2 separate regions of the Homo sapiens genome follow, and region 2 is linked to region 1. Evidence: fine-mapped expression QTL. A gene starts in region 1. The other region holds a variant in brackets. All regions are shown on one strand. Distances are between the middles of the regions. Region 1 holds the start of CENPQ (centromere protein Q). Region 2 overlaps CENPQ (centromere protein Q).

Region 1 (5,389 bases):
ATTCTATGAAAGCTGAGAGAGGTGAGAAAGCTGTAGCAAAAGAGCCTGAAGCTAGCAGAGCTTGGTTCCTGAGGTTTAAGGAAGTAAGCTATCTGCATAACATGAAAGTACAAAGTGAAGCAGCAAGTGCTGATGCAGAAGCTGCAGCAAGTTATCCAGTTCTAGGTAAGATAATTGATGAAGGGGCTACACTAAACAACAGATTTTCAATGAAGACAAAACAGCCTTCTATTGGAAGATGCTATCTAGGACTTTCATATCTAGAAAGAAGTCATTGCCTGGCTTCAAAGCTTCAAAAGACAGGCTGACTCTCTTGTAGGGGCTAATATGGGTGGTGACTTGAAGCCAATGCTCATTGACCATTCTGAAATATCCTAGGGCTCTTATTCTTTTAAATCTACTCTGTCTGTGCTCTGGAAATGGAAGAACAAAGCATGAGTGACAGCACATCTGTTTACAGCACGGTTTACTGAGTATTTTAAGCCCATCTTTGAGACCTACAGCTCACAAAAAGATTCCTTTCAAAATAATACTGCTCAATGACCACGTACTTGGTCACCCAAGAGCTCTGATAGAGATGTACAAGGAGATTAATGCTGTTTTCATGTCTGCTAACACAACATCCATTCTGCAGCCCATGAATCAAAGAATAATTTTGACTTTCAAGTTATATTATTTAAGAAATACATTTTGTAAAGCTATAGCTGCCCTAGACAGTGATTCCTCTGATGGATCTGGGCAAAATAAATTGAAAACTTCTGGAAATGATTCACCATCCCAAATGCTAGTAAGAACATTCATGATTCACGGGAGGAGGTCAAAATATCAACATTAACAGGAGTCTGGAAAAAGTTGATTCCAACCCTCATGGATGACTTTGTAAAGGTCATGACTTTGTTCAAGACTTCAGTGGAGGAAGTGATGAAAGATCTGGTGGCAATAGCAAGAGAAATAGTGGAGCCTGAAGATGTACCTGAATTGCTGCAATCTCATGATAAAACTAGTGGAAAAGAAGTTGCTTCTTATGAATGAGCGAAGTTCTTGAGATGGAATCTACCCCTGGTGAAGATGCTGTGAATATTCTTGAAATATCAACAAAGAATTCAGAATATCACAAAACCTTAGTTGCTAAAGCAATGGTAGGGGTTAAGAGGATTTACTCTAATTTTGAAAGAAGTTCTACAGTGGGTAAAATGCTTTCAAACAGCATCACATGCTACAGAGAAATCTTTAGTGAATGGAAGAGTCAACTGCTGTACAAAATTCATTATTTTGTTATTTTAAGAAACTGCCACAGCAACTCCAATCTTCAGCAACCATCACCCTGATTGGTCAACAGCCATCAACATCAAGCAAGACCCTCCACCAGCAAAAAGATTAGGACTTGCTGAAGGCTGAGATGATTAGTAGCATTTTTTAGCAATAAAATATTTTAAAATTACAGCATGTAATTTTTTTTTACACATAATGCTATTGCACACTTAATAGGTTACAATACAGTGTAAATACAACTGTTATATGCACTGGGAAACCAAAAAAATCGTGTGACAGGCTTTATTGGTCTGGAACCGACCCCGCAATATCTCGGAAGTATGTTTGTACATTATTCATAGAAAAAGTATTATTCTAATAACATTTTGAAATATTTAGCCAAAAAGTAGAAAAATGAAGCATCCAAGGGAAAACAGTAAAACTCGGACGGCAGGAAAGCTCGGAAAAAACACAAAAAACCTGGCGTGTTCAGGGACAGGATAATCCAGCGAGGCTTTTAATGTGTATAGGAGAAGTGAAAAGAAATAAGGCTGGTACAGTAGTTTGCCGCCAGACTATATGCTTTAGGAGAGAGGGAGGCATTCTAGGTTGTCTTGTTTTTCTTACCAGCTTGTTGATACTCATGGGACTCAATTACCTCAATTTAGACCTCTATGTGGGCACAAGAGTGAGTAGGACTCCTGGAGAAACACAGACACTAATGTCCAAGGCTGCACTTGACTTCACTAGTGCCCGCGGGAGAAATTTAGCAATGAGGATGAGCCATGAGGATGATTCGGGAGAAATAGGAAGTATTCATGGCTTTGCTCCCTCCCCCCTAATCAAACATCTCAATCTCAGGATCCTAAGGGCAGATCTTTTAGGACATCGGGCATTTCCCCGTAAGCAATCCCCCCTCGCTATCCTCAAATGCAAACTGCGGAGTCTGCCACAAACGCGTTGGCTTTAAAACTCATCCCTGAACTTTAGATCCACCCAGCCGGTTAAGGATATCACGACTCACCACTGATTCTTCTTGCACCCTTCTGAGAGCCGCGCTTAGAGTAATTCGCGCCCAAACATTCGTAAACAGAGGAGACCCGGAAGTGGGTGGGAAGAAAGCGGAAACGGGCATCTAACCCTACCCCTAAACGTCATCAGGAATGCGCCCATGAGAGCGCTATTAGATTGGCTGGAGGGAGGGCGGTGTCGGCCTACGCCCCCAGAGTCGTCCGGCTGACGCTGGCGGTGGCGCGGTTTGTGTGGGCTTGGTGAGGGCGGGGAGGCCTGGCTGTGTGGATGTCTGACAGGTGAGGCGGGGGACGCAGAAGTGCAGCCGCCCTCTCCCACAGCGGAGTCCAAAACAGGCCTACCAGTGAGTAGGACGTACACCTTTCAGATCGCTCCATTCTTCTGGCTCCTGTCCCTCCTCTACCCCTGTATTTTGAACTTTTGTCCTTTCTCTCCCGCTCTGTCCTTTACTTCTGTCTTCTTTACCTTCCTACTGTGACGGGATCCCACTCTCTGCCTTCTCCTTAGGTTTAGATTTTCACTTCGACCAACCTCTAGTTTTGGGCGAAGTCCCTGGCAATTCGGAGGTACTTCTGGAAAGAAGGTGCTTTTAATACTTTAGGGGCCATGTCGGTATCTTCTTTGGCCACTTAAGCACCCTGAACTGTTCCCGTTGGCAGAGGTCACTTTTTGTATGGTTCCAAAGGGATGCGCCTGCTTCATGGCTGCCTCCCTTCTAGGTTGTGGGTTATGTTATTGTCAGGGTTTTTCTAAGAGTTTTCGGGAATAAAAGTGATTTTCTGTGTGTAAACAGGATTAAGAGTGTAAACAGTGTTAAGAGTGAGAGGTAGAATAGAAAAGACAGGTCTAAATTGACATAAAAGCTTACATTACTAACTCGTTCTCAGTTTTATCTAGAAAGAAGGTGGTCTTAGGGAAGCTCGAAGCCCTGGATAACGTATGTGTGTAAAGTTTTAAACCACTTGATGATTTTCTGCCAATATAATTTTGTGTTTAATGATGTACTTATGCTAATATCAAATATAATTTTCATGCCCTATGTTTCCATCTCCAAACCCAACTAGTTGAACATCAAAGTACCTTCTTGAAGTATTAATGTGCAATCATACGTCAGCAGCCAAAGCTTGAAACTTATTGGTTCAAGAAATCTTTTTCTCACTGATTTGTTTTTGAGGTGTGGGGGTGGGATTAATCATTGCTCTTTAACTCATTTTAGTTGTCAGTAACATATTTGCTTTGCATGTTGCTTCTTTGAATGCTTGAGGCCTCTCTTGATGGTCTTCTGAGAAAATTCAGAGGTCGTATTGCCATCCGCAGTAGTTGTGTTTTTATCTAAAAATGGTGTCTGTTTCCAGCCTCCACCAATTCACATGTGATTTTCAGGAAGTCACTTAAACGGGGCTCTTTCCTATTAGTTGTTCAGATTTAGGAAAGCCCACGTGAAATGAGTGTGATATTTCCTGCCAACAGTTTAGTCTCAGGTGGTTTTCAAATTACCTTTTACAGGATTACTATTGAAACAGTTTAGTTGTTGCTTCATTATTTTTTTCATCCACCTTTTAAGCTAGTAAATGTAGTGGATGGCTTGCAAAAAGATGGATGACAAGGACCCCATGGATTTAAAGAATAAAAATCGTGCTAGTATTAAAAAAATGGAAGGTTTTTTTGTTTTGTTTTGAGACGGGGTCTCTCTCTGTTGCCCAGGTTGGAGTGCAGTGGCACGATCTCTGCTCACTGCAACCTCTGCTTCCCGGGTTGAAGTGATTCTCATGCCTCAGCCTCCTGAGTACCTGGGATTACTGGTGTGCGCCACCATGCCCAGCTAATTTTTGTATTTTTAGTAGAGACTGGGTTTCACCGTGTTGGCCAGGCTGGTCTTGAACCCCTGACCTCAGGTGATCCACCTGCCTCGGCCTCCTGAAGTGCTGGGATTCCAGGCGTGAACCACCATGCCCAGCCTTTTTTGTTATGTTTCCATTTAGACTTTGTTCTATGTACTTTTTACATAGTTGAACCTGTTGCACTTACAATTACGTGTCTTGAGTCTTTTACTTACTACTTTTTGAGTTTGTTTCTCTTTTTTTGGGAAACTATGCATAACACATTTTTAACTTTTTACTTATACATATATTTACAGAAACTGCATAAAACATAACTGTATAATTTGATGAATTTCCACAAACAGAATATATCTATGTAAGTGGCAATCAGATCAAGACCATTACCCCCAAAAGCCCCTCTCTTGCTCCTGTTGTATTCTAGCAACCATTAAGTAACCATTCTTCTGACTTCTGACATCAAAGATTAGTTTTGCCAGCTTTCTAAACATATTTTGATAACTACATGAAATTCTATCATTTGTATATGCTGTAATTCACTTATTCATATGTTATGAGATACTTACGATTTTCCTAAGTTTTCTCTATTACAAATAAAACTATAGGAAACATCTATTTTATATATTACTACAGAAGCTTTCCCAGGAGTAATGTTCCTCAGTGGAATGGCATAAACATTTCTGAAGCATTTCATGTATATTGACAATTTACTTTCCAAAGTAGTTAAAATAGTTAATACTGTCACCAGTGGTTTATGTCTCTTGTTTAACGACCCCATAATAAGTGTTGAGTATTGATTTCATTTAAGCTTTACTAAACTGATAGGTAAGAAGTGGTATGGAAAATAAAATTTGAAACTCCCTTTACTTGTTGCCTTATCCAGTATAAAACACATAGTATAGTGAATATATTAATGTTTGCATCTCAATATCTTTTTAAACAATGGGCTCTATATGTTTACGCTGTATGACTCTGACAAGTTTTAGTAATTCAGGTAAACAGTTTACGGCTTTGTGAGGTGGGATTTTGATCAAGCGACTTTATTTCTCTGAGCCTCAGTTTCTACATCTGGAAAATGATGACGCTGAACCCAGCAACCTAGTATAAAAGTCTATGCTAGTTATCCGGAATATGCAGCTCTAATGTTGGAGCAGTTTATAAACTAGCACAGAAGTAGATTATTGAAGAGGCCATTTAGCTCACCTTATGGGTTCTGGGATGAATTGTGTGCATATTAGTTAAATGCAAGGACTTTGAAACAGGCTGCA
Region 2 (5,337 bases), 27 kb before region 1:
ATTTTTTATACACTAGGTTATAACTTATTCACATATATAAGCTTATTATCATAATAAGAAAAGGTTTATATATTTTGGGTTTTCTTGTTTTAATAAAATAAATGTGCTAAGGTTCCTTTTTAATACTTTTTGGGAATATGTTTTGATGACAGTAGAAAATATTCAACATTAATTCACTAAACAACCAAAGAAGTAAAATTTTGATACTACCTCCAAAGTTAAAGATAGCAGGCATATCTTAACTACTTCCCAAAAAGACTAGGGAGTTAGGTAAAAGAGTGAAGGCATTTGAGGATTTTTCAAGTTCCAGATGACCAGACAGAAACTGTAAGCCATTGGCTACAGAATGAATGATAGCAAACACTAAGGTTTTTATGCACTAGACAGTGTATGTAAACACTTACTTATCACAGCTCCTGATATGAGCTGTTAACCAATAAATGAGTTCCATTCAGGCATTATAAACTACTAGATCCTTAAGGCAATTCCTATTTTATGGTTTTAGGCAAATACTTATAGATACAGCAATATAAATGTTAGTTTCCTAGATTTGGCAACTGCTAAAAACAGTCTTCAGAACTACATTAGATGCTAATGATAGAACTACAAAGACTAATTTTAAAGTGCATATCAGGAGATAATAAATCCTGCAGAAGCCTTAGCCTCTGTACATATAATCATAGGTTAACAGTTTTACAAATTCACGAACATTAAATTAATATGGAACAATCTAAAAAAAAAACACTCTTTAAGATGCATCCAGTTTCTTATAGGCTTCTTCAATGAAGGTTGACATGCTCTTCATCTGTGATGAATTATGAAGAATATCCAAGTCCTTTAGAAGAGCATTCTGGTTTGGAATTAGCGCCAAAATTTCTTTCTGTGGGAAAGATAGTATTAAATGTAGTTGTTAACATTTTATTATGAGAAATCTCAAATGTATGTTAGAGAGAACAGTAAAATAAACCTTAAGTATCTATCATCCAACTTCAATAATTGTCAACGAATCGCCATTCTTCTTTCAAATCTATCTCTCCCTCTCCCCATCCTGCTCCTTTCACCACTGGTAAATGATAGGATTTGTTTGTTTGTTTGTTTTTGTTTTTTTGAGGTGGAGTTTTGCTCTTCTTGCCCAGGCTGGAGTACAATGGCGCAGTCCTGGCTCACTGCAACCTCCAGCTCCCAGGTTCAAGCAATTCTCCTGCCTCAGCCTCCCGAATAGCTGGGATTACAGGCATGTGCCACCACACCTGGCTAATTTTGTATTTTTAGTAGAGATGGGGTTTCTCCATGTTGGTCAGGCTGTTCTCGAACTCCTGACCTCAGGCAATCCGCCTGCCTTGGCCTCCCAAAGTGCTGGGATTACAGGTGTGAGCCACTGTGCCCAGCCAATAGGAAAATTTCAAATTACTTCTTGAGAAAACATGAAGACTTTCCAATGCTACAAACATTTATACTACAATGTCTACTAGAGCCCTTGGAAGAAATAGTTTACTACAAATAAGACAGTACTATTTTATAAGGAGTTATATGCTATTGTTAGAAGCATTAAAAAAACCAAACTGTCAGTATTTACTTCTAGAAATGTATCCTACAATTATGACTATACAAATCAGTAAAGACATATGTACAAGGGTGTACCCAGTCTTACCTGTATTAAAAAAATTATGTATTTCCATCAGTAATTTACAAATTATATGACCTCCATACAACAGAATGTTACATAGCTATCAACAAAAATGAGAGATCTACGTGACTGACAAGATGTTCAAACTATACAGTCGAATGAGAAAAGTAATTTGCCAAACAGTTTATATCAGGTTCCATTTGTTTAAAGAACGAAATAGGACATAATGTTTTCATATATGTAATGTATAATTGGTCTATGATATACCAGGATGCCTCATTTTACCGTGTTCCCAGACACTGCATTTTTTACAAACTGAAGGTTTGTGGCAACTCTGTGCAAAGGAGGTCTATCAGCACCATTTTTCCAAAAGCACATGCTCACTTTGTATCTCTACATCACATTTTGGTAATTCTTGTAATAGTTCAAACTTTAAAAATTATTACGGTATCTGTTATGGTGATCTATGCCCAGTGTTCTTTGATGGAACTGCTGTAATTGTTCTGGGTGCCATAACTGCAACCATATCAAACAGTGAACTGAATTGGTAATTGTTATGTGTTCTGACGGCTCCACCAACCGGCCATTTATTTCCCAGTTTCTCTCCCTCTCCTTGGGCCTCCCTATTCCCTGTGACACAACGATATTGAAATTAGGCCAGTTAATAATGCTACAATGGCCTCTAAGTGTTCAGGTGAAAAGAAGAATCATGTCTCTTACTTTAAATCAAAAACTAGAGATTACTAAGTTTAGTGAGGAAGGCCTATCAAAAGCCACGCAAACCAAAAGCTAGGCCTCTTGTGCCAAACGCCCAAGTTGTGAATGCAAAGGAAAAGTTCTTGAAGAAAATTTAAAGTGCTACTTCAGTGAATACATGAATAATGAGAAAGCAAAACAGCCTTATTGTTGATATGGGAAGTCTGAGTGGTCTGGATGGAAGATCAAACCAGCCACGACATTCCCTTAAACCAAATCCTAATCCACAGCAAGGCCCTAACTGTTTTCAAGTCTATGAAGGCTGACAGAGGTGAGGAAGTTGCAGAAGAAAAGTTTGAAGCTAGCAGAAGTTAGTTCATAAGGTTTAAGGAAAGAAGCTGTGTTTATAACATAAAAAGTGCAAGGTGAAGCAGCAAGTGCTGATAGAAAAATTACAGCTAGTTACCCAGAAGACCTAGCTAGCTAAGATCACTG[G/C]TGAAGGTGGCTATAGTAAACAACATATTTTCAATGTAAATAAAACAGCATTCTATTGGAAGAAGATGCTATCTCTAGGACTTTGATAGTTGGAAAAGAGAAGGCAATGCCTGGCTTCAAAGCTTTAAAGGAGATGCTTTTGTTAGGCTCTTGTTAGGGGCTAATGCAGCTGGTGACATGAAGTTGAAGCCAATGCTCACTGATCATTCTGAAAATCCCAGGGTCCTTAATTCTACTAAATCAACTACATCTGTGTTGTCTGTGCTCTGTAAATGGAACAACAAAGCCTGGATGACAGTACAACTGTTTAGAGCATGGCTTACTGAATATTTTAAGCCCACTGTTAAGAGCTACTGCTCAGAAAAGAAGATTCCTTTGAAAATATTACTGCTCATTGAAAATGTTCACAGTTACCCAAGAGCTCTGATGAAGATATACAAGGAGATTAATGTTGTTTTCACATCTGCTAACACATCTGTTCTGCAGCCTCTGAATCAAAGAGTCATTTCAATTTTCAAGTCTTATCACTTAAGAAATACATTTCATAAGGCTATAGCTGCCCTAGGTAGTGATTTCTCTGATGGATCTGGGCAAAATAAATTGTAAACATATTAAAATAAATTTATCATTCTAGATGTCAGTAAGAGCATTCATGATTCACAAGAGGAAGTCAAAATACCAATAACAGGAGTTTAGAAAAAATGGATTCAATTTTGAATCCTCATGGATGACTTTGAGAAGTTCAAGACTTTAGTGGAGGAAGTGACTGAAGATGTGGTGGAAACAGCAAGAGAACCAGAATTAGAAGTGGAGCCTGAAGATGTACCTGAATTGCTGCAATCTCATGATAAAAATTGGATGGACGAGGAGTTACTTCTTATGGATGAGCAAAGAAAGTGGTTTCTTGAGATGGAATCTATTCATGATGAAGATGTTATGAACATAGTTGAAATATCAATGAAGGATATAGTATATGACAAAAACTTAGCTGACAAAGCTGTGACAAGGAATGAGAGAACTGACTCCAATTTTGAAGGAGGTTCTACTGTGGGTAAAATGCTATGAAACAGCATCACATGCTACAGGGAAAACTTTCGTGAAAGGAAGAATCAACTGATGTGGCAAATTTCATTGTCTTCTTATTTTAAGAAATTGCCACATGCATCCCAACCTTCAGTAATCACCACGCTATCAGTCAGCAGCCATCAACATTGAGGCAAGACCCTCCACTGGCAAAAAGATTACGACCTGCTGAAGGTGCAGATGATTGTTAACATTTTTTAGCAGTAAAGCGTTTTCTAAATTAAGGTATGTCCCTTTAAAAAAAAAAAAAAGAAATAATGCTTTTTCACACTTACTAGACTACAGTATAGCGTAAACATAACTTCCATATGCCGTGGGAAACCAAAACATTTGTGTGACTTGCGTTATTGCAGTATTTGCTTTTTTGCTGTGGTCTGAATCCAAATTTGCAACATCTCTAAAGTATGCCTGTAATCAATATGGTAAATAGGCACTTACCTGAAGTGTGGGTGCTTTGAGAGTTTTCTGAGAAAGTTCCGGAAGAGAGAGTACTCCACTACTATTTATTTGATGCATCTAAAGTAGAAGAAAGCTACAGATTATTTCAAAAAGCTGATTTCTCTCATCATATTATACTCGAAAGTTATCTTTGCATAATTTAACCATTAAAAATTATATCCAAATTCCAATAATACAGTTTAAAATAATTACCTGTTTTACTCTCTCCTCTTCTTCTTCCACCTCACTTGCCAGAATCTGAATTTTGTTCTTTAGGCTCTGAATATTCCCAGTCATTAACTCTGTGGTCTCTACCATTTTATCTATTTCTTCCTGAGTCAGAAAGAGAAAAAAAACATTTTAACTTAAACACATTATTATATTAAATCCTAATAGATATTGTTATACATACACATTTTAAAAAAACACCATATATATTTAAAACATTTTTAGAAGCAACTGGTGAATTTACTTTTGTTTCTTTCAAAAAAGAGACTTCTTGGAAAGCTGGTATGTCAAGGTATTAATGTGTTATAAGGATATCTAATTTCCCTGGAATAAGGAGATGTACATGAACACTTCCTCAAAACGTACCAATGCTGGTAGGGTCAGAGATCCTGGAAGATCCAAGTGTAAATCTAGCAGAGCCCAGAACTGATGACAACAAATACAGCAACCTTCCTTAAGCAGCATAAAACTTCATGTAGTGGAGAAATTCTGAATTGTTTTCATTTATTTAGGAACATTTAAGAGCCTGCTATTTTAATTTGTCAAAAGGAAGTAATGTTGGGCATTAGAGCAGGGAGAATAAAAAAAAAGAGTAACAGTTTCCCACATTAAAGGAATACATAATTTAGAGAGGAAGATGAAAAGAAAATAAGAAATGAATAAAACAAGTATGGGGACAACACATCAAGGATGTGTTGTGTGCAGGCCAAGTATAAAATTAAAATTAGCAAGCCTCCAGGTTTCTAAAGGGTATTAAACATGGCACTGCT

What was found. PIP is the estimated chance that this variant, and not a neighbour inherited with it, causes the effect.
Region 2: its variant is fine-mapped to the expression of CENPQ in whole blood (INTERVAL, PIP 0.99).

What each region holds. Positions count from the first base shown.
Region 1 is chr6:49,460,340-49,465,728 of GRCh38, reverse strand. It overlaps CENPQ (centromere protein Q), which reads right to left and starts at 2,359. Exons shown (of 9, transcript NM_018132.4): 1 at 2,276-2,359. MMUT (methylmalonyl-CoA mutase) reads left to right here and starts at 2,476. Exons shown (of 13, transcript NM_000255.4): 1 at 2,476-2,626. RefSeq lists enhancers at 1,493-2,392, 2,737-2,806, 2,393-3,293.
Region 2 is chr6:49,487,687-49,493,023 of GRCh38, reverse strand. It overlaps CENPQ (centromere protein Q), which reads right to left. Exons shown (of 9, transcript NM_018132.4): 7 at 4,553-4,672; 8 at 4,340-4,417; 9 at 1-880. The coding sequence ends at 749. Among named protein-coding and RNA genes, the nearest start is that of GLYATL3, 9.6 kb to the left of the region's middle. The variant G/C (reference allele first, on the strand shown) is at 2,819.